Regions from separate parts of the Homo sapiens genome. Here regions 1, 3, 4, 5, 6 and 7 are each linked to region 2. The links come from fine-mapping of genetic effects on gene expression. A gene starts in region 2. Each other region holds a variant in brackets. All regions are shown on one strand. Distances are between the middles of the regions.

Region 1 (4,100 bases), 32 kb after region 2:
CTGGCCCCCCAGGGTTCTTAAGTCATGAAAACAGAGAAAGTGATAAGACATCCACATGATAAGCAGCCCCAATTCTTCCTGGCAGTCAGATTTCTTTCTCTTCTTGTATGCCTTCTTTGGGCCTGAGCGCTGAGCTTCCTGCATGATCTTACAGGAATTGACTAGACACTAAAATAATTGCTTTGCAGCAAGATAGAGCCAATCCAGAGGGAATCAAGACATGAGTCTGGTGGTTGACATCACGCAAGTTTATGGAGGGAGCTATGTGTTTCACAGAGCGACAATGGCTCAGCCCGCCAGCCTGGCCTCCTGAAGCCAGCGCCAGCCTGGAAGGAGAGACCGTCCCTTCTCCCTCTTCGGGCATCAGATGATAAGAAAGTCCTGCTGCCAGGATGAACTTCAGGAACTTGAGGATCAGTAAGATGGTGGCTCCTGCACAACGGGGTTGCTTTTAAACAGAGGTGATCATTAAACATTCACCGAATGAAGGAGTCATGGATAAGGATGTGGATCTTGGGATCAGCGTGTGAAAACAAATAACTTGTAGGTATTTCATTTATTTGTTTTCAATGGTAGGGGGGCAGGGAAAGGGGTTGTGGTGTTTGTTTGGTCTGTCTTCCCTATGAGCATGTCAGCTCCAGAGTAGGAAGACAATGGTGATATCGTTCAGCCTGGTATATCCAGCACCTAAAGAAATAAATCCAGAGTAGGCACTCAATAAATAAATTTGCCAACTTCGCCAGTGAATTTATTGGTTCAAAGATGTCCCTCTCTCTTAGACCAGAGAGTCTCCAATGGCTAGCTTGGGGATAGGAATGGAAAGGACAGGGGAGAGGTCTCAAGACCTATTTATTTTATTTTATCTTATCTTATTTTATTTTATTTTATTTTATTTTTTGGAGACAGGGTCTCACTCTGCTGCCCAGGCTGGACTGCAGTGGTGTGCTCACAGCTCACTGCAGCCTCCACCTCATGGGCTCAGTCAATCCTCCCACTTCAGCCTCCCTAGTAGCTGGGACTACAGGCATGCACCACCACACCCAGCTAATTTTTGTATTTTTTGTAGAGATGGGGTTTCATCATGTTGCCCAGGGTGGTGAAACTCCTGGGCTCAAGCAATCCACTGGCCTCAGCCTCCTAAAGTGCTGGGAATACAGGCATGAGCCACCATGCCTGACCCATCTCAAGACCTTTAAAAAACTACATATAATAGCTAATGTTTTACCATGCTCAAAGCAATGTTTGTGCACAAAAGTGTAAAGTGCACAAAGCCCGAATAACAGGCCTGGGAACACTTGGTGGCAGGAGGCCACAAATCCCTTAAATGTCAAGGAAGAGGCACAGCAGAGCGTCAGCTTCTCTGAGTCCAAGGCTGAACCACAACATCACCCACCAGTGGAAGCACCACCGCTTTCCAAACCTGACCTGTAACAGGGACTCTACTGCCCATCGATTAAAAGTGTGGTGTCTTTTTCCAGAGAATTGCTACCCAGTAGCTTTAGCTTTGCCTCTGAGGTCTCATCAATCCTTTCCCTCTTATGTAAAAGCAGCATTCAGGTCCTCTCCGCAACTCTTCCCTCCTTGCACCTAAAAATCTGTTTTTCCAACCGTTCCTCCTTTGACCAAGCCCAGGCCCTCACCACCCACTAGGTCTCCTCTCTCAGCTCTCCACTCTCAACACGCTCTCACAGAGTGTGCTGAGGCTTGAGTGCCCTGACGAGAACGTGAAGCCTTGGGCCTCCCTGCTTCCTGTGGGCACAATGGCTCTGTCTACGCACAGGGCTCATTCTTCCTACTTTGTGCCTCATCCTCCTTCTCCAGTTTGGAAAATACCAAAATGAACAAAGGAGAAAGAAAAGTCACCCATAACCCACCATTCCCTCTCTCCCTTCCTGCCTTCCTTCCGTCCTTCCCTTCCTCCCTCCCTTCTTCCTTCCTTCCTGTTTTTATGAGGGATATAAGGTAAAAAGTAGGCTTGGTGTGATGGCTTATGCCTATAATCCCAGCACTTTGGGAGACCAATGCAGGGGGATTGCTTGAGTTCAGGAGTTCAAGACCAGCCTGGGCAATATAGTGAGACCCCTGCCTCTACAAAAAAAAAATGTTTAAAAAACTAGCCAAGCATGATGGCATGTGCCTGTAGTCCCAGCTACTTGGGAGACTGAGGCAGGAGGATCACTTGAGCCCAGGAGGTGGAGGCTGCAGTGAGCAGAGATCACACCACTGCACTCCAGGTTAGGCAACAGAGCAAGATCTTGTCTCAAAAAGTAAAATTAAATTAAATTAAATTAAAATTGAAATGAAGTAAAATCCTCCTCCTTCTATCTTCACCAACAGAGGTAACCACTGCAAACAGCTTGGATAGTTCCTTCTAAAATGTTTTACTGTCATATGCAAACATATATAGATATAGATGTATACACACATACATACACATACATATACA[T/C]ACGTTTATATCTATATAAATACACCCAAATGTATGCACACATATACACATATAACTTCTAATTATTTAGTTACATGTATTTCTGTATATGTACTTAAAGAAATGTAAATTTATAAGTATAGATAAAATTATGTGAGCTACAATTACATTAATTATATAATTACTAAATTATACTATCATCTTTTATTACATAGATCTTACTCTGGAACTTGTCTTTTTCACTTGAGTGGCATATCATAGATACTTTCCCAAGGGGCTTCACACCACTCTCCCTCTTCCTTTTTTGTCGTGTCTGTGGTGCTCCATTTGGAGCTGGGCTGTGTTAAAATTGGCCAGTCCCCTCCCGAAGGACTTTGAAGATGTTTTTAATCTTTTGCGTTGTCTGATGTTCTAACAATGATTCTTTTTTTTTTTTTTTTTTTTTGAGATGGAGTCTTGCTCTGTCACCCAGGCTGGAGTGCAGTGGCGTGATCTCGGCTCACTGCAACCTCCGCCTCCCAGGCCCAAGCAATCCTCCTGCCTCAGCCTCCCAAGTAGCTGGGATTACAGGCACCTGCCACCACACCCAACTAATTTTTGTATTTTTAGTAGAGACAGGGTTTCACCATGTTGGCCAGGCTGGTCTTGAACTCCTAACCTCAAGTGATTCACCCACCTCAGCCTCCCAAAGTGCTGGGATTACAGATGTGAGCCACTGTGCCCGGCCAATTTTTTTTTTTTTTTTTAATAGAGATGAGGTCTCTTTTCATTGCCCAGGCTGGTCTCAAACTCTTGGGCTCAAGCGATCCTCTCACCTCGGCCTCCCAGAGTGCTGGGATTGTTGGTATGAGCCACCGATTCCAGCCTCTAACGACTATTCTTAGGCACCTATCTTTAAGCACCAAGGAAGGTATTTCTACAGGACCCATTCCAAGAAATGCAAACTGGGCCATAGGGTGTGTGCATGTTTCATTTTGATAGATATTGCCAAATTACACTCCTGAAAGCGTTCTCCAAATTTCACTTCCATTACCAGTGACTTGGAATTCTTTTTTCCCCCCAAATCTGATAGGTAAAAAATAGCACCTCACTGGTATCTTCCCCCAGTGGTTGAGGCCCTCCTGTGTGCTAATGCACCAGCCATATCCTCAGAAAGGCAGGTGGAACGGTGGTTCAGCACAGGAGCCCCGCTGTCCAACGGCCAGGATTCTAGCATACTTCTGCCTGTTATTAACTAGTACCTCCATTTCATCTACAAAATGGGCAAACTCATAGTGCTGATGTGATGTATGAAGGGTACGTGTAAAGCTCTTAGCACAGAATCTTTGCCCCATTCTAAATGGAAGCAAGCCCTTGGAAATCTACATTCTCTTTCTTTTTTTTTTTTTTTTTTTTTTGAGACGGAGTCTTGCTCTGTCACCCAGGCTGGAGTGTAGTGGCGTGATCTCGGCTCACTACAAGCTCCACCTCCCGGGTTCATGCCATTCTCCTGCCTCAGCCTCCTGAGTAGCTGGGACTACAGGCGCCCGCCACCATGCCCGGCTAATTTTTTGTGTGTGTTTTTAGTAGAGATGAGGTTTCACCGTGTTAGCCAGGATGGTCTCAATCTCCTGACCTCGTGATCTGCCCACCTTGGCCTCCCAAAGGGCTGAGATTACAGGCTTGCGCCACCGTG
Region 2 (4,100 bases):
GCAACACACCCAGGCTCAAACCTAGGAAGGGTATAGGTCCAGGTGAGCCCAGGTGAGCCCTGGCTCAGCCCCTGTGCCAGAAACTCTGAGATAAATAGCATCTATGGAATCAGACTCTAGTTCCCGCACTCTAAACGAACTGCACCAACTGTGAAAACTGTGACCACGCCAATTAAAGAAAAAAAAAATCATTTTCAAAAAACTACTACCCTTTACATCCGTCATCTTGCTAAGCCACCCTAAAAAGAGGGGTTGGTCTTTGTTTTTAAACCAAGCCATCTGGACCATTACACCAATCATCTATTCCGAGTTGCTGTGGACAAAATTTCAAACAGCATTTACAAAGAACAGCACAAAGGGATCATCCTCTTAGTACTTATCATCCAAGACAGGGCATAACAAAAACACCTTTCTTTCCTGTATTTGAATGTGCCTCTTGACAGCTACAGAAGAGAGCAAACAATTTACATTTGCCAACAGGCCAAAGTCAATGTGGATCTTGTGGGCTGGTGAACAGAACAGAGGGAGCTCGTGGGTGTTCCTGGTGGTTAGTGGGATAGGGAAACACCCGTCTAAGCCTGTCCCCATGTATATCTGAGCACCCTCCTGAGTAAGAAAAAGGGACACAGAGGGAAGACCGAGGCCACCATCCTTTCCATCCCAACAGGAGCAGCATTGATCACGGGCAATGCAAGCCCAGTGCCCCTCGGAGAAGTTTCTTCTCTATTTGCTGTTTTAAATCCTCGCTACAAGGGTGGTCAGAGAACCAGCAGCACTGGTCCGGCTTGGGAGCTAGTTAGGAATGCAGAAACTCAGGTCTCACCCCAGACTTTCTGAATCAGGGTCTGCATTTTGTGGAATTCCATGGGGGATTCTTATGCACATTAAACTGTGGAAAGCAAAAGATTAAAACTGGTAAAACTTGGCCAGGCGCAGTGGCTCATGCCTGTAATCCCAGCACCTTGGGAGGCCAAGACGGGCAGATCACCTGAGGTCAGGAGTTCGAGACCAGCCTGGCCAACACGGTGAAACCCCATCTCTACTAAAAACACAAAAATTACTTGGGCGTCGTGGTGTGTGCCTGTAGTCCCAGTGCCTGTAGTCCCAGCTACTCGGGAGGCTGAGGCAGGAGTAATCGCTTGAACCCGGGAGGCGGAGGTTGCAGTGAGCCGAGATCGCGCCACTGCACTCCAGTCCGGGTGACAGAGCAAGGCTCTGTCTCAAAAAAAAATAAAAATAAATAAATAAATAAAACTGGTAAAACTTCTACAATACCAAGAGCTTAGAAAATGAGTTCTCCTGCCCCATGTGGGATTGGCAAGAGCAAAGAAGAGTCCCAAAAGAACAGAAAGTTTTCTGCAGAGTCTCAAGAGAAGAAAAAGTTTCTGGCAGAGTCCCAAGAGAACAAGAAGTTTTCTCTAACCGGCAGACCAGTAACAACTTTAGGACACAGCATCTCCATCACAGCTTACACAATGGGGCTCAGAATTCCTCACGATGGGGATATTAATTCCATCAACCCTGATTCGTTAGCAGCAGGGAGAATCATTCTCTGACCGTTCCAACTTTTAACATGCCAACAGCCTGTAGACTTGTACACACCTGCCACAGCAGCACATGGGCATTCCCGGCTGATTGATACAGGTTTGTTTTCTTTATTTCCTTTCTCCCCCTTTTAAACCTGTTGTTCCGCTTCCAAGAGTCAGTTCAAGAGGCTGGTGAAGTTGCAGAAGTGGAAACAGCACTAGGGCTGCTGGGCCTTAGTGGAGCTGCACACACATGCCCTAACTCCACGAGGGGGAATCCAGCAGAAGGATTCAGGTCTGGGCGGAGAGGACTGTGGAAAAGTTCTCTAATGCCTCGCTACTCAAAGCGTGGTCCGCGGACCACCCAACCTGGGAATTAGTTAGAAATGCACACTGTCACGCCCCACCCAGACCTGCTGCAAGTTAACCAGATTCCCAGTCAAGTTCCAGAGGTCCAGCTAACAGCCAGAGCAAGTGGGAGGGGCCTGGGAGCAGCTGGATTTGTAGCTGCCTCTGCTCCCAGGAATCCCGGGTACCCCCACACACCGCCTAGGAAGGGACGAACGAAGAGGATTTGGGTTAGGACTGTAAAAGGAAGGCATGTCATTGCCTTCCAGATCACCCTGGAGAGGGACATAGCCGGGGTCCGGGGACTTCCTTCCCACCGCCCCTCACCCTCCCACCCCGCCCCGACACCTGCCAAAGCCTCCAATTTCTCCTCCAAACCCCTCCTCTCTCCAGGCGTACCCCCTTCCAAGCTCCAGGTGGCTGCCCTTCCAAGTCCCACACTCTTGTCCTGATGGCCTCCGACCCCGGGCCTCGAGCCCAACCAAAGGCACCGAAGGAGAGAAAAGCCAACTCACTAGGGTGCCCTCTCCAGCCCCCACTGCACTTCCATCAGCCCCCGCTGCCACTCTCTCGCCGGCTCCACTCCCGCAGTCACTTCCTGCTTCCCTCCCGCACACGTGGCCCTCCCGCCTCCGGGCCCCGCCCCCTTGGCCGCAACTGGCAACTCCCGCCTGAAGAATAGATTCTCTGGTTCACAGCCGTCTGCAGGCTCAGGAACAGATCTGGGCGGGCAGAACAGAGCCCTGAGGCCAAGAGCCCAGCAGTCTGCGAGTGACTGCAGCCCTAAGGGAAGCTACAAACACCCAAGGAAAGAGCCCTTTGTAACACCCCTGATGTTACTTATGCTTCTACACCTTTGGCAGCCAGGTCCATGCCACTGGGTGCGCAGCAGAGCAGGATGTGCTGTGTGTGTGTTGCGGGAGAGGCTGGGGGCGGGTAATGTGATGGCATCGGCATCATTCTCCAGTCAATGACCCTCAAAAGAATCACTGGAGGGGGTCAAACACAAAATGCCAGCACCCCCAGAGGCTCTGGTTCCGTCATTCTGGGTGGGGCTGACATTTTGGGATTTTTTTGTTTTTGCTTTTGTTTTTTTGAGATGGAGTCTCGCTCTTTCGCCCAGGCTGGAGTGCCGTGGCCCAATCTCGGGTGATTGCAGCCTCTGCCTCCTATGTTCAAGCGATTCTCCTGCTTCAGCCTCCCGAGTAGCTGGGATCACAGGTGCATGCTGCCAAGCCCCGCTAATTTTTGTTTTTTTTTTTTTTTTTTTTTTTTTTTAGTAGGGACGGGGTTTCACCACGTTGCCCAGGCTGGCCTCGAACCCCTGACCTCAAATGATCCACTCGTGTGGGCCTCCCAAAGTGCTGGATTATAGGCATGAGCCACCGCGCCTGGCCTGAGATCTTGTTTTGAGCTAGGAGTTGCTGATGCTGCTGTCCTGGGACCACCCTTTGAAAAGCACTGCCCTAGGTCAAAGGCTTTGATCTGCAGGATTTCTGTGAAAAGACCAGAGGATAGGATTGACTAGATTTAGCCAAAAACAAAACAAAATAAATAAATAGATAGAAACAAGATGCCTGGGCTGGGCGCTGTGGCTCACGCCTATAATCCCAGCACTTTGGGAGGCCGAGGCGGGCAGATCACAACGTCTGGAGATCGAGACCATCCTGGCTAATACGGTGAAACCCCGTCTCTACTAAAAATACAAAAAATTAGCTGGGCGTGGTGGCAGGCGCCTGTAGTCCCAGCTACTCGGGAGTCTGAGGCAGGAGAATGGCGTGAACCCGAGAGGCCGAGCTTGCAGTGAGCCAAGATCACGCCACTGCACTCCAGCCTGGGCAACAGAGCAAAACTCCATCTCAAAAAAAAAAAAAAAAGCCTGATTAAATTTGAATTTCAGAAAAATAACGTCATTTATTACTATAAATATGCCCCGGGCAATGTGTGGGACATACTTATGTTACAGGCATATTTGTTGTTGATCTGAAACTGAAACCCAGCTGAGTGTCCTGTGTTTTATTTGACAACATATCAGAGCGTGACCTGAGCAGAAAAGCTACCCGTGGTCTCGATGGCCATAGCCCAAAGGGTCCAATAACAGGCCTCTTTCTTCCAGTGGAACTAGGTTGTTCACACTGACGGTCGCACCATATACCAAGCACTCCATGGGGAGGAGAAGACAGCCTGGCCACTGGAGGGTGGTCTTTGCCCTTAAAAGACCCCCAA
Region 3 (4,100 bases), 60 kb before region 2:
CCATTGAGAATCTAATGCCACGGCTGATCTGACAGGAGGCGGAGCTCAGAAGATAAAGCTCACTTGGCAGCTGGCTGCCCACCTCCTGCTATGTGGCCCAGCTCCTAACAAGCCATTGACCAGTAGCGGTCCTTGGTCTGGGGGGTTGGGGACCTCTGCTTTAAGACAGTATCACAGCCGTCCAACATCACATTCAGCTGTCTGATCCAAAGGACAGTTCTTCTGTAACACAAGGAATCTGTTTTACATTAGCCCAGGACCTAGAGGCATAGTTCCTGGGAATCGTTATAGTTACAGAATCACCCATCATTCCTTCTCTTTCTCCACTTGGGAAGTTAAGGAAAAAAGAAAGCAGGAAGGCAGGGAAGAGAACTTCAACCTACCTACCTCCCGGGGTACATGACCACTGACTCCAGTGAGTCTGACTTAATCCTGTCTCACCGTGATCCAGCAGGAGAAATGGACTTTGACCCATTTCTCTCCAGAGAGTTCTCCCTGCACCACTTCCCTTTCTAGGGGAGCAGGGAACTCTGGCACCAGTTCAGGGGTGCTTCTGCCATCTCTAGAACTTGTCGGGCCCAGTGTCTGGTAAGGCTGTCTCATGCTGTTATGATCTTGGACCCCTTTCCTCTACTGACAGTGGTGCATGCAGATGACAGGGCTTTAGCCAATGGCTTGCGGTTCCCATCGCATGACCTGGCCCCAGCTCTCTTGGCTCGGTGATCACAGCCACATGCCAGGCTGCGGTTTGCACGGTGCTTCCCTGTAAGCACATACATGCTCATTCCCAAATCCAGCTCTCCTGCCATATGTCAGTAAAAAAGCCTGAAATCTCTGGCTTATCCCCAATTCCAGTGCATTTTTACATTTTTAAAATTTTACTGTACAGTCCTTCGGGGGAGTTATCCTCAAATTAAAGGATGGAAAACTAGAGCTCAGGGATATACAATCAGTAAATGGCAGGTGTGAGCTCCAGCCCAGACCCCTGCTGCACAGAGCCCTGCCTCACCCTCCTGTCAGCCCTCATAATGTGATCCATGGTCAAAGGCCTAATGCTACAGATTGTGGGGGTGGGGCGGGAGTATCATCTCCCTGATGATGTCATACTCTCAATAAAACCCAGCACCACAGTGATCGTTCTAGGTCCTCTCATATATATACAGTGCCACCCAGCACATCAGCTGTACTCTATATTTTTAATGAAATGTGACATTCAAAATCCGAACTTACTAAAATGTAAATAAGGGGGTAATTACCAAGACATTACTTTAAGAAAGAAATCACCGATCAGTTCCTCTAATGCCTTGTTCTCTGTTTAAATACCACTGGCTACTTAACAGAGACATTAACAGGTATGTCAGGTTTGATCAGAAATAAATTCATTGCACAGAGCTGGTTGTATCCCGATACGACAGCTAAAAGTAGAGTGGTACTCACCAAGTGAGGCATCAGGAGGTCAGCCAAGTAGACAAAAGCCGCTCCAAGGGTGAAGCCAACAGCCACAGGGAAGAAGGCAAAGGCACCGAAGCCCCCAGAGGACGTGGCCATCTCAACTGCTGGGGCCAGAAGAGACCAATAGGAAGCTGCCAACATGACCTACAAAAACCACAACGAGAGATAAACGTTAAAGCAACTGCAGAAGGCTTTCCAGGCAGGACCTCAGTTGCTCTCTGTGGCCCAGATTGACCCCTACAATTTCACATGAGTTCAGTCTTTCGTCCCAGGTTGGGAGGTACTATCAGAAACCAAAAAGCCATCCCCAGAATTCCCGGAGCTTACTATTGCAAGAACTCAATTTTGGGTAGGATAGAGTTGACCTTGGGAGGATGCAGTCCAGTTCGCCATCATCTAGCCTATAATTCAGTGGTTCTCAACCAGCAATGGTTTTGCCCTCCACAGGACATTTGGCAATGACTAGAGACATTTTTAGCTGTCACACTGGGAGGAGCGTAGGGGGAGGTTGCTACTGGCATCTAATGAGTGAGGCCAAGCATGCTGGTAAACAACCTACAATGCACAGCACACCCCTGACAACAAAGAATTATCTGGCCCCAAATGTCAATGAGAATGCTGTTGCGAATTCCTATTCTTTTTTTTTTTTTTTCTGAGATGGAGACTTTCTCTGTCACCCAGGCTGGAGTGCAGTGGCACAATCTTGGCTCACTGCAACCTCCACCTCCCGGGTTCAAGTGATTTTCCTGCCTCAGCCTCCTGAGTAGCTGGGATTATGGGTGTGTGCCACCAC[A/G]GCCAGCTAATTTTTCTGTATTTTTTAGAGATGGGATTTTGCCATATTGGCCAGGCTGGTCTCAAACTCTTGAACTCAGGTGACCCACCCACCTCGGCCTCCCAAAGTGCTGGGATTAAAGGTGTGAGCCACCATGCCCAGCCCAAAAAATCCTATTTTAATTAAATTCTTCCAAGACAAATTGCTCACTACTTCACGAGTTCCACTGTATTGTAACACAGGTCTAATTATTACAAAGTTCTTTCTTATGTTGAGCTGAAATCTGTCTCCTTTCCACTTTTACCTTTTAGCTGTGGTTTTGCTCCCTAGAACACCAAAAACTGTGTCCCTCCTGTGTGATATGTGACAGCCTCTGAAATATCTGAAGATAACCAGCAAGTCAACGTCATATTGGTCTCATCAATTATCTCTAAAAAGGACGAAGGGAACTAATATTTATTGATCACTTGGTATTTCCAAGGGCCAAGATTTACATTTGATATCTTATCTTTTCATCACAACCACCCCAGAGGCAGATGATGTTTTCTATTGCGATTTGTAGATAAAGAAATTGGATCTTGAAATAATAAGGTAATTTGCTCATGGTCCTACAGGCCAGCGGTCCCCAATCCTTTGGGCACCAGGGGCCAGTTTCATGGAAGACCATCTTTCCACGGACCAGGCAGTGGTTTTGGGATGAAACAGTTCCACCTCAGATCATCGGGCATTAGAGTCTCATAAGGAGCTCACAACCTAGATCCGTGGCATGTACAGTTCACAATAGGGTTCACGTTCCTATGAGAATCTAATGTCGCCACTGGTCTGACAGGAGGCGGAGCTCCCGCGGTAATCCTCACTCACTTGTCCGCTGCTCACCTGCTGTGCGGCCTGGTTCCTAACAGGCCATGGATCAGCACTGGTCCATGGCCCGGGGATTGGGGACCTCTGCCATAGGCAGTAAGTAGCAGATCCAGGGAAATGACCAAGCAGGACCATAACCAACTCAATGACGGTAGAAACATGAAGGAGAAGAAAAAAAATTAGGCTAGTCTCAAATCTCAGCAAAGTCAATTCAATAAAAGGTTCTCCAGCAGATGAGCTGGCACAGTGGTGCATGACTATAGTTGCTGGAGATGAGCTGGCGCAGTGGTGCATGACTGTAGTCCTAGCTACTGGGGAGCCTTGAGCCCAGGAGTTCAAGGCCAGCCTGGGCAACATAGCGAGACTCTGCCTCTTAAAAATAAGAAGCTCTCCAGCACTGACCAAACTAAACACTCATCCATGGCTGTTTACTCTTACAGATGCTATGACATCTTTTGGCTAGAGTACACCCACCACCCATCGTAACTATACGGCAGTCATCGCCGACACAGAAAATGTTGAATGGGTTTCTAAAAATTACTTAATTATGCCTTGCCTTAAAAAATCATCTGCATCACCCATCTTCAAAATAACACTCAGAGTGACAGAAGCAGGTATTACAACAGCAACAATAAAGAACAAATCCAAGCATAAATCCATAAATTCCCTTCTTCCAGCTGTCAAACATGCACAGTCACTTGCTCTGGGCCAAATTCTCCCAGCAAAAGTCTTAGTGCCACCCATGGAAACCTGCAAAAGCCTCCAAAACTCTAAGAATGAAAATGCCTCTGCTCAACAGGATGGGAGCTGAGGCTGATCCGTTCAACTCCATGAGCCGGGCTGTCAATAAAGACCATCAAAGGAAATGTGAGGGCTCCCCCTCCCTGCTACAGCCTAATCCACCCCTTTTCCAGACTTTGTCTTACTAGCTTTAGAATTCAACAGCCCTCAGTAGCTGCCCTGCATGGTAAACTCCCCATCGAAGAGGACCTGCAACAAGACACAGAGATGGAAA
Region 4 (4,100 bases), 460 kb before region 2:
GTATTAGTCCATTCTCATGCTGCTATAAGGATATACCCAAGACTGGGTAATTTATAAAGGAATAGGTTTAACTGATTCACAGTTCTGCAGGGCTGGGGAGGCCTCAGGAAACTTGCAATCATGACGGAAGGGGAAGCGAACACATCCTTCTTCACATGGAGGCAGGAGAGAGAAGAATGAGTGTGAGCGAAGGGGAAGCCCCTGATAAAACCATCAGATCTCATGGGAACTTACTCACTATTATGAGAACATCATGGCGGAAACAGCCTCCGTGATTCAATTACTTCCTACCAGGCCCTTCCCATGACACGTGGGGATTATGGGAACTACAATTCAAGATGAGATTTGGGTGGGGTCACAGCCAAATCATATCAGACATGATTTACAGAGCCACGGAAGCCTGAGGGGCAGCATGAGGACAAAAATAAGCTAAGAAAGGCAGAGACATCAAAGGCTAAATGTGAAGACTCTGAGCTGAGCCATGAGCTGTCAGGTCTGGAAAGAGTCAGTGCAATAAAAACAGCATGGTTCATATTGGCTGTGGAGTCACCCAGACCTGGGTTTAAATTCCAGGCCACTGTCACTTTCAGGAGGGAAACCCAGAAGAGTTTTCTCATGCCTTTAAACTTTATCTAACCTCTTTGAAAACTTTATTTGAGGAATACACAAGATAACACACTCAATAATTCACTCACACTCCTTGTTCTTTACCTAACAGCAGCAACTTTGCCTTACTTATTTTCATATCTCCTGCATATGACACATAATATACAGTAATTAATATTTGTGGGCCCAGAGTAATCAACCAAATATTTGTTATGTGTCAGTAGCTACTTTAAATATTACAAAGCTTCAGTTTCTACCAGTGAAATACAGGGATTTGTTGGGCCTGGGCTACTGGAGTGTTACTGGAATAATAGGCCATTAAAGATCAGGAAGGCTTCCAGTTCAACGTGGTAGACGAAGTATGCATGTGTGCCCCCACTCCAATCTCACATTAAATTGTAATTCCCCAGTGTCAGGGGTGGGGCCTGGTGGGAGGTGATTGGATCATGGGGGTGGGTTTCTCATGAATGGTCTAGCACTGTCCCCCTTGGTACTGTCCTCATGATAGTGAGTGAGGTCTTATGAGTTCTGGTCGTTTAAGTGTGTGCAGCATCCCCCCACCCGTGCTCTCTTGCTTCTGCTCTGGCCATGTGACGTGACTGCTTCCCTTCACCTTCTGCCATGATTGTAAGCTTCCTGAGGCCTCCCCAGAAGCTGAGTAAATGCCAGCACCACGCTTCCTGTATAGCCTGCAGAACCATGAGCCCATTAAACCTCTTTTCTTTATAAATTACAGTCTCAGATATTTCTTTATAGCAACGCTTGAATGGCTTAATACAACATGATCCTTTCCACTCCTTCCCTAAGCCCCTGAAATGATAGTAAACAAAATTAAAAGATAAAAAAAAGTCAGAAATACAAGGAGAATGAGAGATGAGAGGACATGAGAGGGTTTTGAAAGTCAGCAGCTCTCTCTTCTCTCTTCCTTGGCGCTGCCTACGGAGGTGGCAGCCATCTCCTACTCAGCGTCGTGGCTACCCTCAGACCCCTCGTGAAGCCCAGGATTGTGAAAAACAGAACCAAGAAGTTCATCTGGCACCAGTCAGATCCATATGTCAAAATTAAGTGTAAATGGCAGAAACCCAGAGGTACTGACAACAGGGTTCATAGAAAGTTCAAGGGCTGCTCAACATTAGTTATAGGAGTAACAAAAAAACAAAGCACATGCCGCCCAGTGGCTTCCGGAAGTTCCTGGTCCACAATGTCAGGGGGTTAGAAGTGCTGCCGATGTGCAACAAATCTTACTGTGCTGAGATGGCTCACAATGTTTCCTCCAAAAATGGCAAAGCCATCATGGAAAGAGTAGCCCAGCTGCTCTCAGAGCCACCAACCCCAAGGCCAGGCTGCACAGCGAAGAACAGGAATACACAGCTCACGTGCATGTCTTATTTGTGTTTAAACAAAACCATAAAAACTGCCTGAAAAAAAAAGAAGAAAAAAAAAGTGTCAGCAACTGATTTAGCTGATTAAAAAAAGGTGAAGCACAACTGACTACAGAGGAAGAGGCCATGCAAGGTAGCCGACCCACACCTTGACACACCAGGATGCAAGGAATTGGATGGAGTCACCTATTGTCTCCCAAAGCAGTGTGTGCAATGGGGCAGGGAACAGCAGGCTTCCTTGAGAATCTGTACCAAGCTACCGGAGCTCCCGGATCCCCAGCACATCCCTGCCCTGTGCACCAAGCAACTCCTCATCCGCCACAACAGGAGACAAAACTGAACCAGGGAGAGTCCAGATGTGGAGACTGCATAGGGCAGGGGCAGCACAAGGACCAGAAGACAGGGGTAAAAAAGAAATGTCTACATGCCCCTTCACCTAGTTTGCTCTTCAAATGTTAGAGACCAACTTACAATCCACCCATGAGAACGGTCTGGATT[T/C]CTCTGTGGTAAGATAGATCATCCCAAGAGAAAACCCTAAACATAGTGATATTTAAGAGTCTCCAGTGAAAAGTGGAGTCTCTCTCTAAGTGCCCTACAGCGAGATTTACCAGCTCTCTGGTCCCATCCACCTCCACCCCTACATCCAGAGCATTCAATGAGGCAAGCATCATCAGGCAGTCGGAGAAAATTCCCAGTAGGAAAGACAGAGACTAAAATAAGAAAATAGTGTGGGGCAGTGGGGGTGGTGGGAGCAGGGAAGGAGAAAGAAACCTGGAGAAAATAGGGAGCAAAAGAGAAAAAAAAAGAAAAACGGTGACCTCCTTTCATTATTATCCCTGGATAGACAGAAGAAAGAATTGCCTTCAGGAAAGAAGAACAGAAGGCCACAAGAAGGAATTTTATGGCAACTAGAGCTTTTAAAAATTACTAAGTTTCTCTTATTCCTTAAGAGAAACAGTAAGACAGAATGATGAAAAAGAAGATCAAACCAGGGGTTCCAAGATCCAACAAATAAGAATTCCAAAAGAAGAACAGAAAAAAATTGAGGAAAGGAAATTGTGAAATAAATAAGAAAGTGAACATGAGTTTCCATATTGAAATAGATGATCAGGGGCCCAGTTCAATGACTGAAAAGAGACCCATACCAAGACCCTGTGTCATGAAACTTCAGCTCATTAGACATAAAATAACCTTCAAAGGAGGGAAGTAGGAGGTGAGGAAAGGAGAGACAGGGAAAGAGAGAGAGAGAGAGAAATTTCATATACAAAAGAGAAGGAATCTGAAGAGTATGGAACAACTCAATAGCAACACACAAGATGAGAAGGTAATGGAGCAATAATATCAGATTTCTAAGATAAACTGATTTTCCACCTAAACGTCTGTAGCAAACAAACTATCAATCAAGTGTGACAAAAACATTTTAGAATATGCAAGTTCTCAAAAAATTTTCCTCCACAGAAAACTATGGAAGGATATGCTCCATCAGAATGAGGGAGTAAATCAAGAAAAAGGAAGATTTGGGAGAGCCTGGCAGCAGAGTATTTCATTCAGGGATTGCCTAGGGTGGCATAAAACAGATCCATGAGCAAAGAGACATTTATTGTGCTCAAATACAAAAGTCCGGTGGGAGCAGTCACAACGCAACAGTTTCGTGATATCCCAATGTGCCCAGTGCTGACTGTCTGTCTTGTATTACCAAAGCTGGTGTACAGACTCCATCCTCATGCTTGCCTCATGGTGCTATGGTGGCTGTCCCATCTCTAGCTTTTCATCTGTATTCCAGGCAGGAAGAAGAATGCAGCAAATGAGAAAAGAACAGCCTCTACCTCAGAAAAACAAAACTTTCTTAGAAAAATTATCAGCAGGCTACTGCTTTTGTCTCCTTGGCCAGAATTGTGTCGCCCTGTAGCTACAATGGGCTGGGAAATACAGTTTTTAGGTTGGTATATTAGTTTCCTATTGCTGTTGTAATAAATAACCATGAAGAGTGGTTTAAAACAAAGCAAATGTATTATCTTACAGTTCTAGAGGTCAGAAGTCTGAAGTGGGTCTCACTGGGCTAAAATCAAGGTGTCCTTGGCAGGGCCAAGTGCTTTTCTGGAGGCTCCAGGG
Region 5 (4,100 bases), 380 kb before region 2:
TGAGGGTGATAATAACAGCTATAACTTCTCTCATTCCAGGGCTGTGCTAGATGCTTTTCAAGTGCACTCTCGCTGAATCCCCCAACACTTTGACCCTGGAGCCATTCATAGGCCCATTATACAGATTTTAAAAAAGCAAACTGAGGCCCAGAGAAGTGAAATGACATTTCAAAGCTCACCCAGCTGGTAAATAATAACGTCAGGGACCTCAAATTTAGATCTACAGTCCACCACAAAGGCCGTGCATAGATATTAGGTTTGCCGCAAAATTGTGGGTTTTGGCTGGGTGCAGTGGCTCAGGCCGGGCGCGGTGGCTAAAGCCTGTAATCCCAGCACTTTGGGAGGCCGAGGCGGGTGGATGACCTGAAGTCAGGAGTTCGAGACCAGCCTGGCCAACATGGTGAAACCTCGTCTCTACTAAAAATACAAAACTTAGCTGGGTGTAGTGGTGCGCACCTGTACTCCCAGCTACTTGGGAGGCTGAGGCGGGAGGATCGCTTGAACCTGGGAGGCGGAGGTTGCAGTGAGCTGAGATCACGCCACTGCACTCCAGCCTGGGTAACAGAGTAAGGCTCTTTCTCTCTCTCTCAAAAAAAAAATTAATAAAAATAATAATAATTGCGGTTTTTGCCAATGAAATGGCAAAAACTGCAATTACTTTTGCACCAGGCTAATACTGTTCAATAATGGGTCGCCAAAAAAGGAAGGAAGCAGGTAAGAAGCGCAGCAGCCAAGTTCATAACCCTGCTGCTGACAGTGTCAACATCCACCTCCTGCTGAGTGCCTGCTACGCAACCAGTACCACCCAAGGGCTTTCCTTCCACTTTCATTTACCCCTTCAGGAAATCCCATTTACAGATGAGGAACCTGATCCTTAACAAGGAGAAAGAGCTTGAGTTTGCACACCGTGTCTGTGTTGAGCCTCCTTGGTAAAGACCAGAGAACACCACCTTTTTGTGATTATGGGGCTGTCCCCAAACCTGTCAGGAAGGCGGATGACATGGTCTGCAGCTGTTCACCTCCTGTGGACTGCCCTGTTTCAGATCTGGGTTCATGGAGTGTTTCACCTGCCTGGCTGAAGAAGGAACGTGGCCGTACTTGTGAAGCTAATAGTGAGAGGTTCATTTGTTTAAACAGCAGTTGGTGGAAAAGCATGGAATCAAGGATCTTTACACGTACATATTCAAAACCACTTCACCTCGCATCTTGCATCCATGTAGCCCCTTCACGCTCACAATTTTTCCTCTCGTGATGTCTATTCTCACTCAGGGCCAACTCCACGGGTGTGCGACCAGTGCAGCATCCCAGGGTCTGCACTCAGGAGGAGGTAAGGGTTGGCTGCATACATCTCATGCACCCAGCCACGAAAGGGGCCCCGGGAGCCCGCGAGAGGCTCTCTCCTCCAGGAAGTACCCCTCTGCCCAAGGGCACGATGTTACAAGGCAGATAAGATGCACCATGACTAAGTTCTTCAAAAAATTAAAAATCAAATTACCGAATGATTTAGCAATGCCTCTTCTGGCCATATACCCCAAAGAACCTCAAGTGGGGTCTTGAAGAGATATTCTTACATTCATGTTCACAAGCAGCACTATTCACAAGAGCTAAATGGTGAAACAGCCCAAGTGTTCATGGACAGA[C/T]GAATGAACAAACAAAATGATGCATCCGTGCAACCTAATATTGTTCAGCCTTCAAAGGAAGAAAATTATGACACGTTACAACATGATGACCCCTGAGGACATTATGCTAAGTGAAATAGGACGGACACAAAGGGACAAATACTGTGTGATGCCACTTCTATGAGGTCCCTAGAGGAGTCACATTCATAGAGACAGAAAGAAAATGGCAGTTGCCAGGGGCTGGGGGGAGATAAGGAATGGGGAGTTAGTGCCTAATGATTAATGTATACATAACATACCATGTACCATCTTTTTTTATTTTTGATTTTTGGTGGAGTCTCGCTCTGTCACCCAGGCTGGAGTACAGTGCTGTGATCTTGGCTCCCTGCAGCCTCCGCCACCCGGGTTCAAGCGATTCTCGTGCCTCAGCCTCCTGAGTAGCTGGGATTACAGGCATGTGCCACCTGTAATTTTTGTATTTTGAGTAGAGACGTGGTTTCACCATGTTGGCCAGGCTGGACTCGAACTCTTGACTTCAAGTGATCCGCCCGCTTCAGCCTCCCAAAGTGTTGGGATTACAGACGTGAGCCACCGTGCCCGGCCAAAATGTACCATCTTGATCAATTTTTAAGTGCACAGACAGGTCATGGTAAGTGTGAAAAAATACCTAACTCCCGCCCTCGTTCTCCTCGCACCCTCCCTGACCCACCCCAAAAAGGCCCAAGGGAGCCCCCCTGCATTCCCAACCTGCAGGCATGAGGTCATACAAGCGGGGTGTTGGGCAGAGGCCCCTGGCAGATGGCAGGGTAGGGCCCCCAGCACTCCATTCTGGACAGAATGAAAACCTGACGACCTATCTGATGGAATTACACGGAAGAAAGGAAATTCGTCTTTTAAGAACAAGCGGGAGGCGGATGACTGAAGTCCCAAAGAATGCTGTGGTTGAACCTTTTTTTTTTTGTTGTTTGTTTTCTGGCACAGTCTGTCTCTATGACTGAGCTGAGTAACGTGTTTCCCGTGACAAAGGCCCCTTTCTTACGACAGTTTAATAGCTCCAATACGGGGGACAGCCCTGACTCTCCCATGGGCCAGCGTCTGAAGGCGGCCACAGAAAAAGGGAGGGAAAGCCGCCGCTCTTCTCCAAGTTGGTCCAGACTGAACTGAGAGAGTATAAGGAAAAAAAAAATCGGAAACTTTAACCCACTCCTGAAATAAAAAATAGAAGTTACCAAAGGGATGGGGAACACACATGCAGAGGCACAGAGAAGAATATGGATGAAAAAGTGGCCTCAGAGCCCGGTGTGGTGGCTCACGCCTGTAATCCCAGTACTTTGGGAAATCGAGGTGGGCGGATCACTTGAGGACAGGAGTTTGAGACCAACCTGGCCAACATGGTAAAACCCCATCTCTACAAAAAATACAAAAATTAGCTGGGCGTGGTGGCAGGTGCCTGTAATCCCAGCTACTCAGGAGGCTGAGGCATGAGAATTGCTTGAACTCAGGGGGTGGAGGTTACAGTGAGCCAAGACGATGCCACTGCACTCCACCCTGGGAAACAGAGGGAGACCCTGTCTCAAAAAAAAAAAAATATATATATATACACACACACACACACACACACACACACACACATATACACATATAAAATATATATACACATATATACATATATACACATATAAGTATATGTATATATGTATATACTTATATGTGTATGTATATATGTATATATGTATATACTTATATGTGTATATATATGTATATACATATATATAAAAATAAAAATTTTAAAAAATTTAAAAAGAGGAAAAAAAAGTGGCCTTGGGGCTTTGCGTCCAACTGTGAGAGGAAGTGGAGAAAGCTAAGAGAGGACCTCAGGGACAGAGAAGACGCCGATGGAGGTAGGGAGACCCGATGCCCTGGTTTCTTAACAGCTGCTGTGATGAAGTACCACAGGGATTTGTTCTCACAGCCCTGGAGGCCAGAAGTCCAAGATCAAGTTGTCCGCAGGGCTATGCTCCCCCTGAAGGCTCTAGGGGAGGATCCTCCCTCGGCTCTTCCAGCTTCTGGTGGCCCTGGCACTTGGTGGCATTCCCCAGCTTCTAGACACATGACTCTAGTCTCTGCCTCCACTACCACAAGGCCGTCTTCCCTCCACGTGTCCCTGTGTGGCCACGGGGCACTGTCCTCTCCGCATGTGTCATCCCTCCTTGTTTTATAAGGGTACCCAGTCATGTTGGACTTAGGCCCACCCTAATCCAGTACGAGCTGATCTTAACTAATTACATCTGCAAAGATCCTACCGCCAAATAAGGTTACAGTCACAGGTCCTGGGGATTAAGACTTCCATACCTTTCTGGGGTGCATGACTTCAGCATCGCTCCTTATTCTGGAACTTACAGGACAGGTCACTCTTGCTCTGTAGCTCTCCCTCGGAGTGACCCTGCACATCGGCTGTCTAGGAGGTGAGGCTGGAGAAGT
Region 6 (4,100 bases), 400 kb before region 2:
GAGTACAATGGCGCAATCTCGGCTCACTCCAACCTCTGCCTCCCAGATTCAAGCGATTCTCCTGCCTCAGCCTCCCAAGCAGCTGGAATTACAGGCGCCCACCACCACGCCTGGCTAATTTTTTGTGTTTTTAGTAGAGACGGGGTTTCACTATGTTGGCCAGGCTGGTCTCGAATTTCTGACCTCGTGATCCACCCGCCTCGGCCTCCCAAAGTGCCGGGACCACAGGGGTGAGCCACCGAGCCCAGCCCCCAGCTCTTTATAGAAAAAGCACCCACCTCCCTGCCCTGACTCTCCCGAGGGGACAGAGTCCTCTCCTTGCTCAGTCTGGGGCTGGACTGAGGGAGTCCCAGAGGAAGAAGAGGAGGAAGATAGAGGAGGTTGTGCTGGGCTTCCCAGCTTGCAGCATGGCTGGCAGACACAGTCTTGGGGAAGTGGAGCCAGCGGTGGGTGAGGCAGGGTGGCCCGAGCCCTCTCTCATGCTGGCTCTGCTGAGCATGGGGACTCCTGAGAAGGGGGTCTCACAAAATCCACTGTGAGGTTGCCACCGGGCTGTGGAACATGTAAATGAAAACCAAAGATGGTGCTTCATTCTGAGCTCATGTGATTTTCTTCTTTATTAAACTTCAGGAAGGAGAGCTAGAATTGGCTCCTTAGGATACCTCCCCGAGCCCTGGTACCCATCGTGGCTTCCTTCTCTGGCTCCTGTTTCAGAGACTTTGGAAGAACTGTCTCCTTGGTCTCAGACATCACGATACCCGGATCTCAGCTGCTCGCCACTGTGCAGCTGTCTGCAGGGCGGCTCTGTGGGGCTCCCCTCCATTGCCCCAACCACTGCGGGACTTGTTTTGTAGCAGGGCTGGTTTGGAAATTCCTTTTGGGTCACCTCCAGTGGTTCCACGGCAAGCTAAGGAATGGTGGCCAGAAGATGACGGACAAAACTTGAATACGAAGGTGGAGGAACCTTGTGGGCAGGGTGGGGTGGTCCCCTCAGGGTCCGTCTACCACAATCCAAAATAGCATTTTCCCTTTGACAAACCCTGGGCCACCAGAGAGAAGACCTGGGGCTGGGGTCTGCTGACTGTCATCCCAGGCTACTTTGCCTTGCAGATGCTCCTGTCCTGGCTCTGTGAACTGGAGATGCTGGTGGCCTCCATGGACATCCATTACGATATTTCCTCCCCGGGAGAGTCTCTGTCTCTCACTCCATCTTTCTGGACCGAGGCCAGGCAGGTGCTGTGGGCATGGCTGCCCTTAGTTGAGCATAGACCTTCCCTTGACCCTTCTTTTGTGATCTCCTCCCTTTAAGAAGCAGCTGCCCCTTTCTTTCTGCTGGTATGCAGTTCCTTGGTTCTCTTTGGAAATCAAGGGAATGGGGTACACAAAGGTCAGAAATGCCAAGAAGGGTAGAAACGGGAAGTCTGTTTTGAGTTACTCTGACCTCATCTCCCAGAGGCCTCTGTCCCTCCCTTGATTGGGTCTCTGCCTCAGTGTCTCCTCCTCAAACAGAACCCTCTCTACCCCCACTCCTCCCTATCATGTTCTCAGGAGTTTTGAGCCATTCCTGGCTTGAGTTTTTCTTCCCGGCACGTAGTATCCACAGCCTGACATGTCCACATGCATCTGCTCATCCAGGGAATAAGCTCCATGAGGGAAGGAGCTGCCTGGGCTGCAGCCAGCTGGATTCTGTGCCTAAAACAGGGCGCTGCACCCCCTGGGTGCTTCCTGGCAAGCTGTTATTGCTGAATATTTCTCCCATCCAAGTACTAACTGGGCATTATGGCCATAGACTGAAAACTTCTTTCCTTTGGGAGAAATCTCACACAGAAGAGGGTGCAGAGGGTTGCATGGTAGTCCCCAAAAGATAGCCATGTCCTAGAACCTAGGAATATGATTTATTTACAAAAAAAAGGGTCTTTGTGGATGTAATTAACTTCAGGAGGTAGAGATAAGATCATTCTAGATTATCTAGGTGGGCCCTGAATTCAATGACGAGTGTCCTTAGAAAAGACAACCAGAGGAGAGACCCACAGAGGAGAGGAGGAGGAAGGCTGCGTGAAGTGAAGGCAGAGACAGAGACCGGAATGATGCGGCCACCAGCCAAAGGATGCCTGCAGCCACCAGGAGCTGGAAAGCAGCAAGGAAGGGTCCTCCTTCCAGAGCCTGCAGAGAGCACAGCTATCTGCTGGCACCTTGATTTCCAACTTCTGTCCTTGGGAAGTGTGAGAGAATCAACTTCTGCTGTTCTAAGCCACCCAGTTTGTGGTAATTTGTTAGGCAGCCACAGGAGACTAATGCAGGGGCAGGCACCACCACACCTGGATGCTGGGCGTGGTGAAACAGACCCCGCTATGGGGC[A/G]AAGAGTCTGCAAGGAGAGACAGACAATAATTAAGCGAGGAAAAAAGTGTATATAATTACAGCTTGTGAAGATCTCGGAAGGAAACAGGTGGGATTGGGAGTCATGGGGCAGGGGGAGGGGAAGGCAGGAGTTGGCATTTCAGTTGCGGTCCAAGGTGGAGATCGGAAAGCATGGCAAAGCCTGAGTCCCCACCTGGCTCCTTACCCCGGCCTCTGAGTCTACTTGCTCCTTCCCCTGTCCTCCACCCCACAGGAGGGATGATCCTTCTAAGCACAAATAATAGCAGTCGCCATTTACAAGGTACCTACCAGGACAGCTGCAAGAGGGGACGTGGCTAATACTAATCCCCATTCTAAGATCAAAGAAGCCAGGCTCAGGGAGGGTAAGTGACTCTTCCATGTTTAAACCGAGATCTGATCCCGGAGTCTGTTCCTGTTCCGCTGGGCTTAATGGACTCTCCTCACCATTCCCATCTCGCTCAAAAGCGCCCAGGTGTTGTCTGCTGTCTGACATATGAGACCCACGCTCCTCAGAGAAGCATTCAGGGCCCCCTATCTCTCTGATTTCCATATAAATTTTCTTCCAATCTACTGCCACACCCCACCAGGGAACTTCCAATGTATCCACACAGACCTACTCACCTGTTTTTAGCACCTTTATGAACCTGCTTTTAATAATTATGTTATAAAGTGTATTATAAATCATATTATAAAAAAATACAATTGTGACATTGTTACTGCCTACCATTTTTGAGCCCTGCTATGTGTCCTGCTCTGTGCTAGAGGCTTGGCCTGTATGATCAGCTTGCGGTTACAAGCGCCTCATGAGATACGCTTCAGCAGCTGCGTTTTATAGACAGAACTTAGGACCCTGGCCCGAGACTGCTGATTATGTGTCTGGGCCCAATGTGTTCTACTACATTCTGCCCACAATGTTCTTGTTTCTTTCTGCTAATAGCCATAACACCAGACGTTTCATTTTCACGGCTTTGCAAAATACTTTTACATATTTCTTATTCTTTTTCTTTTTTTGAGACAGGATCTCACTCGTCCCCCAGGCTGGAGTGCAGTGGTCTGATCACAGCTCGCTGCAACCTGGAACTCGAGAGATCAGGTGATCCCCCCATGTCAGCCTCCTGAGTAGTTGGGACTACAAGTGCACGCCACCACTTCTGGCTAATTTTTGTATTTTTTGTAGAGATGGGGTTTCGCCATGTTGCCCAGGCTGGTCTCGAACTCCTGAACTCAAGTGATCTGCCCACCTTGGCCTCCCAAAGTGCTGGGATTACAGGTGTGAGCCACCAAGCCCCTGGCACATATTTCATTTTATTGCAAAAACTTTCCTGATTATCCCCAGATGAAGGTGTCTATCTTCAATTTGCTCCCAGTAAGATCAGGGACAGAGGGTGGAGGCTCTGGGGAGAGGCTCTGTCTCACCCAATCTCCCACAATCTCCATCAGTGCCCATCACCACCACACCATCTCAACGAAGCCCAAAATCCAAGTGTTCCAAACAATGAGCTCGCTATGCCACAGTGCAAATCCCTGGGTTGCTCTGAAAATCAGATCACCAGTGGCAGCTAAGTCCTCCCTCTGAGAAACACTGAGTCATATCCCCTGGCAGGGACCATGACCTCTGCTCCATTCTGTCCCCCTCAGAGCAGAACCCCCCACCCCCGCCCCGACCCTCATGATCCTAGGGGCTCCATAAATGCTCCTATGTCTGATTTGACTGATACACT
Region 7 (4,100 bases), 450 kb before region 2:
CCTCCTCCTCCAGCGGTGGGAGTTAAGGGAAGACTGTTACCATCATGCATATGGGCAGGGCCTCCTTGGTCTCTGTGCCCTTAGGAAAGAGGAATAGGGTCACGGCTAGTAGGTCACACCCCAGTCATCTAAGGTACTGGCTGAAGACAGCATGGACTTGGAATGGAAACTGGAAGCGGGAAACCTAAACATCATCCAGGGTCTCTTCTCTAGGGCAGGAAATGGGTGCTGTAGCTTCTACTTGTACTTCCTGTGTTGTGTGTATCCTATTTTAACTCATTGCCTCTCTTTCCTCTCCCGTTATTCGTTTTATTGTATATGGGATGAACGGTTATGGTTAACTTTACACTTCAGCTCAAAGATACAGAATAATGAGATGGGCTTGTTATCCCACGGAGGTGGGGTATCCATTACTCACAGACCTTGAGTACAGGAGTTGAAAGACATTGGGGTAACCCCGTTGGAAAGGGAATGAAAGAAGTTTTGATTGTATGAGGAATAGCTACATATTTTAAGCAAGAGTTTTTTCTTTAAGTAAAACTAGAGGAATTAGAGTATATGTTGATATTGAACAGCAAAAGAGTAAGGCTGTAATGAACTTAATAGACCCTTTTTTTTTTTTCTATTTTGGCTCTGCACCATATGAACTCATTCCCAAATTTGGAAAATCCACTATTTTGCGAGTCTTGGGAAGGGGCAAGATCAGCTAGTTCATGGGCACAGGATCTAAGCTCTGGCAGCTGGATGTTCTGATCTAGAACTTCGAATGTGGAGCCAGGACACAAAGAATCCAGCTCAGTGTAGAGTTTGTTCTTGTGGCGGCAGTGGTGGTGGCATCAAGGTACAGCAGTTTCATTAGTGGTGTCCAGGATCTAGGGACCAGCTCTGGGGACCATGGCATCTAAACCAAGCTGTTCTCCAGGTGTGATTGGGTCATGGCCCCAGACCTCTGGCTTTCTTGGATCCAACCCATTTTCAAGCCCGATTCTCCGAAAGAGCCTGTGAATTCCCTAACAGGCTTCCACTCATTTCCTTTTCTGTTTAAGTAAGCTGCTGTTGGATGCTGTTGTTGCAACCAAGAATCTGACTAGCCCTTCCCATCTGAGCTCTTTCCTTTGCCTCTCCTAGTGTTGGATCAGGGAGGTGTTAGTTCCAACTTTAGTTAGCTCTTTTATGATCATCCTTGCAAAGAAGCAGCTTTGAGAAGTACTGAACGTAACACAGGTCATCCACAACATCCCCTTTTTATTGATATTAATCACAGTTATGAGGTCTTGTCCATCAGAAAGCACAATTTGCATTATGTAGAACTACATACAAAGACATAAAAATAAAACATACATACACCAACCACCACACCAGTTAATCTCAACCAATCAAACCTCTGAATGTGTCTTCAATTTTGATCATCAGTGCTTCGGAAGAACGTACATAGACCCAGCCCAAGGTTGGCCTTTGGGGTCTGATAGCATTCACAGAGCAGGAGATTCACCCTTGGAAGCAATTGAATGTGTAAACTCTGAGAGCAGACACTGACAATGCAATGCCTGCATACCTGACTCCTGGGCTGCCTTCCTTCTCAGCAGAGCCCACTGAAAGTCTCACGTGTGCCTTTAACCAATGAGGATGGCAGGCCTTATCTGTGTTTGAAGTGGACAGGTCATTGCTACCCCTGTTGGAGAAGCTATGTAAGAAGGAGTAGGCTGGCTTCTGGTCTAGTTCGACTCATTCTTTATAGGGACATTTCAGAATGATGAGTTGGCTAAAATTTACTTTAAAGGGGAAATGTAAAATTACCTCTTCTTTTCCTATCCCCTTCTTCCTTTCCCATCCTGAGCCCTCTGGCAAGGCCTGTTGCAGCTCAAGAGTTTTTGTCAGATTATAAGTTACCAAATGGTCAACAGGGAAGGACCCACAGCAGATTCCAAAA[C/G]TCTTTCATTCACTTGAGTTAACTGAAATGGCTCCTTCTTTGAGTAATTGAAGAGTTTGAGTTCTAGCAGTTTGCTGGTGTCTCCAAGTCTCTTAGAAACATGATGGCTATAAACTTATCAAAATAAATGCCTAAGAAATTTGGAAAGCGCGACAAATGGCCTTGCTCCTGGAATCCATTGACAGCAGAGGCCTCCGAACAAACCCACACTCTGTCTGTCTCTTCTTTCCACAGGGCTCACTGTGAGTTCACAGTTGTCCTCATCCCCTTTCCTTCAATAATGTCAATCTTTGCCTTTAAAAAAAAAAAAAAAAAAAGCCAGACTAGCCAATTTCCTTCCCTTTTTCTGTGTCCCCCTCCCATGTAGTATCTCCTTAGGGGGAGGTAAAGGAAGACATGCTCCTCTCTGGGCTGGCTCGGCCTTGGAAGGTAGCTTGCTATCTTTATGATGCTCCAGTTCCAACATTCTAGATGGGGAGAGGCTCAGCAGTGATGGAGCAGGAGGGGCGGATGAGAGGTGTGCTGGCCACTCTGCCCTGAGTCACTAGGCCACCAAAATGCTTAGGAGACGTCTTTTGGTAGCTCGCTTCTATAGGTGACCTTGAGGAGTTGGGAGGCAGATAGAAGGTCCCGAAGTGGAGATTTCCCTGATCTGAAGTTCCTTGATAATCCCACTGAAGAGAGAGTCCATTCAGTGGCCAAAACAAAGAATCTGTATTTCCATGACACCTTAAAATTCCCCATTAAATCAAAAATCTCCCTCAAAGCAAAGTAAAAATGGTTCTATTATAATCAGAGTCAATCAGGATAATGAGATGAAGAAGAGAGGAAGGAAAAAAGTTTTAATGTGAAGAAAGAAGCTTGTTGTCCCATAGAAGCCAACCACTGCTGTTTCTTCGTATGGCCTTTCCCGGGGTCCGAAGCGTCTCAGCCCTAGCCCAGGCCAACGTCCAGTGACATCATCACTACAAATCCCAGGATGGAGGCCCAGGATGCCAGTTTCCCATTACCACTGGAAGAGAAGGACAGGAAGAAAAGTAAGACCTTAATGATCCCTGAGGCCACGGCTAGGCTGAAGGCATCCTCTGCAATGTCCAATTCCAAGAGAAAGCACACTACCATTAATAATGGTAACATTTACTGGGGCTTACTATGTGCCAGGCAAACTAATGAACCATGGAACCCCAAACAACAACCTCATGAGGTCAGTATCATAATTATCCTCATTTTACTGGTGGGGAAACTGAGGCAAAGAGAAGTTACTTGCCCAAGGTCACCTATGATCGTTCTGTGGTCCATGTGTGAGTAATGAAGAGGGGTGATTATTTCTTAAAGATATTACTTAATCTGGCCTTTTAAACTAGCCTCAGAGTTATTCTTCTATAAAAACCAAAATAGGCTGGGAGCAGTGGCTCAAGCCTGTAATCCCAGCACTTTGAGAGGCCGAGGCAGGCAGATCACCTGAGGTCAGGAGTTTGAGACCAGCCTGGCTAACATGGCGAAACCCCGTCTCTACTATAAATACAAAAATTAGCTGGGCGTAGTGGTGGTTGCCTGTAGTCCCAGCTACTTGGGAGGCTGAGGCATGAGAATCACTTGAACCTGGGGGGCGGAGGTTGCAGTGAGCCGAGATCACACCACTGCACTCCAGCCTGGGTGACAGAGCGAGACTCTGCCATTAAAAAAAAAAAAAAAAAGAAAAACAAAACAAAACAAAACAACAACAAAATGGAACAAAGCAAACCCTTACTCCCACCTTCTGACACCTGGCCTATAGCTAGCCAGTGAAGACATGCATGTATCACCTTCACTGACATTTTAGAGCTCACCTCTCCCTTCATTCCAGCCCGAGAATCGAGAGACAGGATGAGAGAGAATATACAAAAACGATAGTCTACTGCATCAAGGGACGGGGGGCAGGTGTGTATGCCACTGCCTGGTGTCACCTCATTTCTTGACCCACATGCCCTTAGCTTCTTTTCTTTTAGTTTCAGAGAGCACAGTTGAGGAGGCAGTGGGGATGATCTTGGGAAGGGGCAGAGAGGGGGAGGGAATAAGGAAAGGAAAGGCAAATGAAGAAAGAGCATATCCCAAGGCTGGGGTCCCAGCTGGGACTGGGACAGGGACAGACAGGGAGGGAAGGTTCTCCAACCTGATCTGGGCTTCGGGG

Alleles and levels. Positions count from the first base shown, and alleles are read on the strand shown. Sizes are in standard deviations (SD) of each study's normalised expression. Not every link is listed here.
As copies of G replace A in region 3, the expression in cerebellum of the gene that starts at base 2,467 in region 2 goes up (moderate effect, 0.41 SD a copy in GTEx).
For the expression in sun-exposed skin of the gene that starts at base 2,467 in region 2, T is the high allele of the variant in region 4 and C is the other (small effect, 0.20 SD a copy in GTEx).
For the expression in B cells of the gene that starts at base 2,467 in region 2, C is the low allele of the variant in region 5 and T is the other (small effect, 0.37 SD a copy in Fairfax 2012).

The links. PIP is the estimated chance that this variant, and not a neighbour inherited with it, causes the effect. A credible set is the group of variants that fine-mapping cannot tell apart.
Region 1: its variant is the best candidate, but not a certain one, in a credible set for the expression of SLC39A11 in neutrophils (BLUEPRINT, PIP 0.73).
Region 3: its variant is the best candidate, but not a certain one, in a credible set for the expression of SLC39A11 in cerebellum (GTEx, PIP 0.77).
Region 4: its variant is the best candidate, but not a certain one, in a credible set for the expression of SLC39A11 in sun-exposed skin (GTEx, PIP 0.89).
Region 5: its variant is the best candidate, but not a certain one, in a credible set for the expression of SLC39A11 in B cells (Fairfax 2012, PIP 0.77).
Region 6: its variant is the best candidate, but not a certain one, in a credible set for the expression of SLC39A11 in nasal epithelium (TOPMed, PIP 0.75).
Region 7: its variant is the best candidate, but not a certain one, in a credible set for the expression of SLC39A11 in whole blood (INTERVAL, PIP 0.85).

The regions. Positions count from the first base shown.
Region 1 is chr17:73,122,109-73,126,208 of GRCh38, forward strand. No RefSeq gene overlaps it. Among named protein-coding and RNA genes, the nearest start is that of SLC39A11, 31 kb to the left of the region's middle. The variant T/C (reference allele first, on the strand shown) is at 2,447.
Region 2 is chr17:73,090,222-73,094,321 of GRCh38, forward strand. It overlaps SLC39A11 (solute carrier family 39 member 11), which reads right to left and starts at 2,467. Exons shown (of 10, transcript NM_139177.4): 1 at 2,390-2,467. RefSeq lists an enhancer at 1-425 and a silencer at 1,396-1,627.
Region 3 is chr17:73,030,119-73,034,218 of GRCh38, forward strand. It overlaps SLC39A11 (solute carrier family 39 member 11), which reads right to left. Exons shown (of 10, transcript NM_139177.4): 4 at 1,438-1,596. Among named protein-coding and RNA genes, the nearest start is that of SLC39A11, 61 kb to the right of the region's middle. The variant A/G (reference allele first, on the strand shown) is at 2,246.
Region 4 is chr17:72,625,655-72,629,754 of GRCh38, forward strand. All of the region lies in intron 2 of LINC00511 (long intergenic non-protein coding RNA 511), which reads right to left. It overlaps LOC107985005 (a long non-coding RNA gene), which reads left to right and starts at 3,978. Exons shown (of 3, transcript XR_001752991.2): 1 at 3,978-4,100. It also overlaps the pseudogene RPL32P33. The variant T/C (reference allele first, on the strand shown) is at 2,487.
Region 5 is chr17:72,713,775-72,717,874 of GRCh38, forward strand. The region is part of intron 7 of SLC39A11 (solute carrier family 39 member 11); the gene reads right to left. Among named protein-coding and RNA genes, the nearest start is that of LINC00511, 75 kb to the left of the region's middle. The variant C/T (reference allele first, on the strand shown) is at 1,641.
Region 6 is chr17:72,693,712-72,697,811 of GRCh38, forward strand. All of the region lies in intron 7 of SLC39A11 (solute carrier family 39 member 11), which reads right to left. Among named protein-coding and RNA genes, the nearest start is that of LINC00511, 55 kb to the left of the region's middle. The variant A/G (reference allele first, on the strand shown) is at 2,359.
Region 7 is chr17:72,644,721-72,648,820 of GRCh38, forward strand. It overlaps SLC39A11 (solute carrier family 39 member 11), which reads right to left. Exons shown (of 10, transcript NM_139177.4): 9 at 4,083-4,100; 10 at 1,229-2,942. The coding sequence ends at 2,864. Among named protein-coding and RNA genes, the nearest start is that of LINC00511, 6.3 kb to the left of the region's middle. The variant C/G (reference allele first, on the strand shown) is at 1,931.